Linked DNA regions of Homo sapiens: region 2 is linked to region 1. A link means that fine-mapping ties the variant in region 1 to the expression of a gene that starts in the linked region. Tissue or cell type: prefrontal cortex. Region 1 holds a variant in brackets; the other region holds the start of a gene. All regions are shown on one strand. Distances are between the middles of the regions. Region 1 overlaps FBXL4 (F-box and leucine rich repeat protein 4). Region 2 holds the start of FBXL4 (F-box and leucine rich repeat protein 4).

Region 1 (2,923 bases):
CTGTTTCTTGTGCTTTGCATTGACTAATTCAATTCTCACAACAACCCTGTAAGATAAATGCCATTACTTACCCCCATTTACAGATGAGGAAACTGAGGCAAAGAAAGATTGAAGAATTTATTTATGATCATACAGCTGCTAGTGGCAGAGCCAACATATAAACCCAGGCCATCTGGCTTCTGAAGCATTGCATTAAACCTGTGCTTTTAGGTGTTCAGGGTAGCTTCTGGCTCTAGGGCAGAGGTCAGGAAACTTTTTCTATAAAGGGCCAGATAGTAAATATTTTAGGCTTTGTGGGCTAAGAGGTAAAACTGAGATTGTTATGTAGATACTTAAATAACTAGAGAGAAATAAAATTTGCACGAAAATTTTATTGACAAAATTCAAAACAATAATTTAGAACAATTTTTTTTGTAATACGGGTTTACTAATGAAAAGAATTAAATATTTACAGGGAGGATCAAAGTTAATGTTTCGTGTCATTAAAGTTGATTGTAAGTACTCATTTGTTAATGCTGATCTGTAATAAGATTTTATGTATTTTACTTCTGAAAATTCCTTGCAGATAGGTATTGTCAAATACTTACATTAATCCATGAGAATATGATTTTTGTTGAGCATATTCATCACTTGAAAGGTTACTTCTTCTCTGGATATTTTCCTTTTAGCATGTTATTACATTGCAGCTTAATCACTTCCAATTGAAGACTAGGCAGAAGCTCCTCAATTGCACTGTTAAATTGATTTTGAAAAATGGAAATTTCCTTTACATTTGCAAACTCCAAAAAATACTGCAGGCACTATGGTGTGAGCTACAAATTTGTGTGAGAGTGGAGATCTCGCTTCTTTGTCTTACCTTTTGATAGCACAGGAAATGTGTAAAGCAGCTTGTTGTTACTTGTAATTCAAACAATGTTGTCATCAAAATGACTTATGTTTTGCTTGTAAACACGTTTTGCCTTGTAATTTTGGCTTGAATTCATTTCAAAATTTTATTAAGTCTTGAGCAAAAGCTAAATTCCAAAGCCATTCAGTGTTCCATAATAGTGATTGAGGACATGTCTTCTTTTTCAGAAAAATGTCAATATCAGCCCTGAACGCAAAAGCTCACAATAGAACTAACACTATTATGCCAATGTGGTTGGGCAAATCAGCATATTCATCTTCTGTATCTGACAAAAGATAACTGAACCATTGATGTTTAATCTATCAGAAACTATGAGAGCAAATGAAGTTCACCATTGCTACCAGTAGTTCAGTAATACAAAATTGAATCAAATATATCCCACAAAGTACCTGCTGATGAATAATACAGTAAATAACCATAGATTTTAAATACCTTCTTACCTTTTCACAGGCTTTATAAATTTGACAAACGTAATCATTTTGCTTCACACATTTTTAACACCACCAGTTGTAACACATCTTAGCAGATTCTACTTCAGGTTGCATGAAATTTGTGTTTTCTTCTTATAAAATATTCATGCTTGTAATTGTGCCACACAGATAATTCATAGAGACTAATTTCAGTCACTTCAACGTTGGCATTGACTTATCAAATAAGCAATAACTAGGCAGTGTCAGTAAC[A/T]TCTGTTGACTCATCAAGAGCCAAGGAAAACCACTCAGGGTCATTTGCCTTGTTTTTTATTGACTGTTGATGTTGTTCCCAGTGTTCTCAATTCTTTAAGCAACCATTCTTGCCAAAAGGCTAATTTAATAGTCTTAAGTTTACTTTGGACACAGTCCTTCAGCCGATAGAATCAAACACAATTTAGTTATCGTTAGTAAAATGTTTTCCTTGCTTGGTTAACATCTGAGTCACTTTGGCTGCAACTTTATTTTCATTTTTGAGTTTGTTTTTTTTTTTTTTTGAGACTGAGTCTCATTCTTTTGCCCAGGCTGGAGTGCAGTGGCACAATCTCAGTTCACTGCAACCTCCACCCTGCAGGTTCAAGCGAGTCTCCTGCCTCAGCCTCCCAAGTAGCTGAGATTACAGGCACATGCCACCACACCTAACTAATTTTTATGTTTTTAGTAGAAATGGGGTTTTACCATGTTGTCCAGGCTGGTCTTGAACTCCTGACCTCAAGTGATCCACCCACTTCAGCCTCCCAAAATGCTTGGATTACAGGCATGAACCACTGCATCTGACCTCCCTATAGTATTCTTTAAGAACAGCTATAATGACATTGCATATTAAACATCATACTCTGACATCTAATCTGATTTTTAAAAATTCATATACTAATGTGCCTTAAAAATGTCACTTCAAGTCTACTTTTCTTTTTTTCTCTTGTTTTGATGTTATGGGTAAGCACTAGTAATAAAAAATTTAAAAATATTGTGGTATGACAACATATGTGGCACTCAAAATGCTGGTAACTGCATTACTGCAGTTTTTAGTGTGCCAAGTAGCAGTGCAAAATGATGACAGCACCACATAAGTCTCCTTTGCATTTGTTCAACTCTGCCATTCTAATGTGAAAGCAATCATAGACAGTACCTAAACGAATGAGTGTGGCCATGTTCCAATAAAATTTCATGAGCACTGAAAGTTGAATTTTACATAATTTTGATGTGTTACAAAATACTACTGTGTTAGCCATTAGATTTTTTCAGCCATTAGAAAATGTGAAACTGTTCTTATGAGCTGGCTGGATTTGGCTTGTGGACCAAATTTGTGACCCCTATTCCAGAGTATTTTCGAGTCAGTTAATCCATGTTTGCCCATTCCTAATTTTATAAACCACATTCAAACCTGTTAATTCGCTGTTATCATTCTCATTTTGCCATTTAGATTTTAAAATGAAGAGCAGTGTTTTGTTAGAAAAAACAAAATGTTTACCATAACAAGAAAGATGTGTAGACAAGAAAGATATTTATGTAGACTCTTTGTTTGTTAAATTTTGAAGCCAGGTGATGC
Region 2 (2,923 bases), 77 kb before region 1:
GGATAGAACTGGAGGTCATTATGATGAGTGAAATAAGCCAAGCACAGAAAGGCAAATAATGCATGTTCTCACTCATATGTGGGAGTTCAGAAAGTGGATCTCAGAGACTGAGAAGTATTGGGGGGGTGGGCCATGGGGGAGCAAGGGGAGGTAAACATACACTTAGAAGAAACATACACTTAGAAGAAATAAGACCCGGTGTTCCATAGATCAGTAGGGTGACTACAGCTAACATTTATCAATAGTACATGTCAAAATAGCCAGAAGAGAACAATTTGAATGTTCCTAGCACAAAGAAAAGATAAATATTTAAGGGGATGAGTAACCCAGTTATGCTGATTTGATTACAGAAATGAATCAAATTATCACATATACCCTGAAAATATGTACAGCTATTATGCATCAAAAAGTTGAAGAAAATAAAAATTTTAATTTTTTTGTATACAATGTATATTGCATATCATATATTGATTCTGTTCATATATAAGTAAATATCCTTACTGGTTTGCCTCATTGGAGCATTCAGACAGCAAATAATGTGTAGTTCAACATTTTATTAAATATTTTCCATCTTAGTGGATATTTTGTAACAAGATAAATATGATGCAAACTAAAAAAAGTGCCAAGGGCGGGCGCGGTGGCTCACGGCTGTAATCCCAGCACTTTAGGAGGCTGAGGCAGGTGGATCACAAGGTCAGGAGATCAAGACCATCCTAGCCAATATGGTGAAACCCCGTCTCTACTAAAAATACAAAATATTAGCTTGGCGCCCTTGTAGTCCCAGCTACTCGGGAGGCTGAGGCAGGAGAATCGCTTGAACCTGGGAGGTGGAGGTTGCAGTGAGCCGAGATCGCGCCACTGCACTCCAGCCTGGCGACAGAGCGAGACTCCGTCTCAAAAAATACATAAATAAATAAATAAAGTGCCATACTGAATCTACCAAAAATAAATCAAAATGAGTAAGAGAGGCTGCCAGACCATCTTCTTCATCAGAGGTAATGGTCAGAGGCTTCTGAACGTTGGTATGGAAATGAGCCTGCAGGCAGGATTTGTATGCAGGGAAGAGGAGGTTTGTAAACTAGGTGAATTATACCTTCAGAGTGCATATAATGTATATTATACTTTTCCTCTACGTATGCGTACCAGCCGTATTACCTATGTATCATCTGATCCACCAAGTCTGGACTGAAGAAGTCCTTGTAGGACCACACTACACATGGCGAGCCGGTACTCGGAAGGGATTATTCCGAAGAGGATTTGTAGACACTACCCGCTGTGTATGACCTAGGCCCTTTACACGGGCACCACTGGAGCTAGGAAGCCAGCAGAAAGCTCCTCCCCCTGGCCTGGGAGCGGGCTGTCCGTAGGACCCAGAGCACCTCCCATGGGAGAAACGCCCGGCTTTGCTTCTGGCCCCGCCCCGCCTCCCTCCAGGCCCCGCCCCGCCTCCCCGGCCCCGCCCCAACCCCGCGGCCCCGCCCCTCCTCCCCGGCTCCGCCCCGCCTCCCCGGGCCCGCCGCTCCTCGCGGCCTCCGCGTCTTCCTTCCGGGTCGCGCTAGGCCGGGCTTGCGGCGGTTGTGCCGCATCTAGAGAGTCGGGGAGCCGCCCCCGCACCCAGGCCTTCTCGCGCTGCCTGGTCGCTGGTGAAGCCCGCGGCGCGCGCCTCTCCCGGACCCTGCAGGGTACGGCCCTTCCTTTACTTCTCCCTCCCGTGGGTCTCTGTCTTCTTCCTTTGGCGCCGGGGCGGGGCCGGGGCCGAGCCAGCGCGCAGCTCCGCGCTTTGGGGAGTCTGGACGCCTGGCAGAGGCCCCCGCTGCCCGCCCCTCCCCGCCCGCGGCCCCGCGCCCCCGCGCCTCCGCTTCACGCTTGCGGGGCTTGCTGGGGCCCTTGAGAACTGCTGACGTGCCTCGGGCTCTTTCTACGCTACAGTCTGCCTGCAGGCTGTGAGGCGTCGTTCGGACGTGTGCGCGGCTCAGGGTTGTTTACACCGCGGGGGACTGCGGGTCGCCCCACACCCGCGCTCAGTGCTGCGCCGGCAGCCACGCGTCGGCCACATGCCCGCCTGTGCTTGTGATTCCTGTGCCTGCTGCCTTGATTTCCCTCTGACATCCGATGGTTTTTGCCTAACCAGGCCTGTTTTCTTTCTTCAGGACTGCTACAGGGTGCCCAGCTACAACCTTGTTTCTGTGTTTAGGTTTAGGGGTGCCCCTAGAGTGTGATGATGACCATCTACTTGGCCTCCTTGTCGACATATTTATAACGGGTGGTTTTGGATTTCCTTGATTTCCCAGTAATCATTGCCACAAACCTTCGAGATGCATTCACAGATTGAAATACAGTATACAAATAACTATTATAGAAGGTGAAGATGGTATAAGCCTGTGGTCAGGTAGTTGCGTTGGCAGGATGCCCGTCTGGCTTTGTGCTCCGGAGGGCACATTACCACCAGGTGCAGGGATCTCTGCTTGCTTTGGTCTGTTCACAGACACAAGCTGCCTTTTCTGGTTCTTGCGTGCACTCCTTGGTTTCTTAAGTTCAGCTATAGGTATATATTTTTTTCTTTCAGGCTCACTTCCTGCCTCCATTATCCTGTACCGCATATTGTATCTGTTGGTTGAGTAGAGAGAGATTCATCCAGAGTCATCAGCGCTCCAATAGTCCTTTATCAGATTAAGGACTTGAGGGAAATGTGCATTATGCTTTAGTAGGCACTCTAAAAGTTCCTTGAATTGGATTCTTCTTTCCATACTTATGTTCTGAGTACTAACTTTGTTTTAAACTTCTGCGCCAAAAGTTGGCTTTTCTGAACTCTGCATTTTCAAACTCTTCCCTTCTGTTATTTGAAAATCAGATAAGTCAACTCATTGTAAGATGGATAATTTCTTTACTCACGCCGTGATGAAATAATGCGATTATAGTACTC

The links. PIP is the estimated chance that this variant, and not a neighbour inherited with it, causes the effect.
Region 2: FBXL4 starts here. The variant in region 1 is fine-mapped to the expression of FBXL4 in prefrontal cortex (CommonMind, PIP 0.95).

The regions. Positions count from the first base shown.
Region 1 is chr6:98,870,030-98,872,952 of GRCh38, reverse strand. It overlaps FBXL4 (F-box and leucine rich repeat protein 4), which reads left to right. Exons shown (of 10, transcript NM_001278716.2): 10 at 1-2,923. Among named protein-coding and RNA genes, the nearest start is that of POU3F2, 37 kb to the right of the region's middle. The variant A/T (reference allele first, on the strand shown) is at 1,589.
Region 2 is chr6:98,946,565-98,949,487 of GRCh38, reverse strand. It overlaps FBXL4 (F-box and leucine rich repeat protein 4), which reads left to right and starts at 1,542. Exons shown (of 10, transcript NM_001278716.2): 1 at 1,542-1,682. RefSeq lists silencers at 1,121-1,415, 1,713-2,022 and enhancers at 1,148-1,659, 2,463-2,652.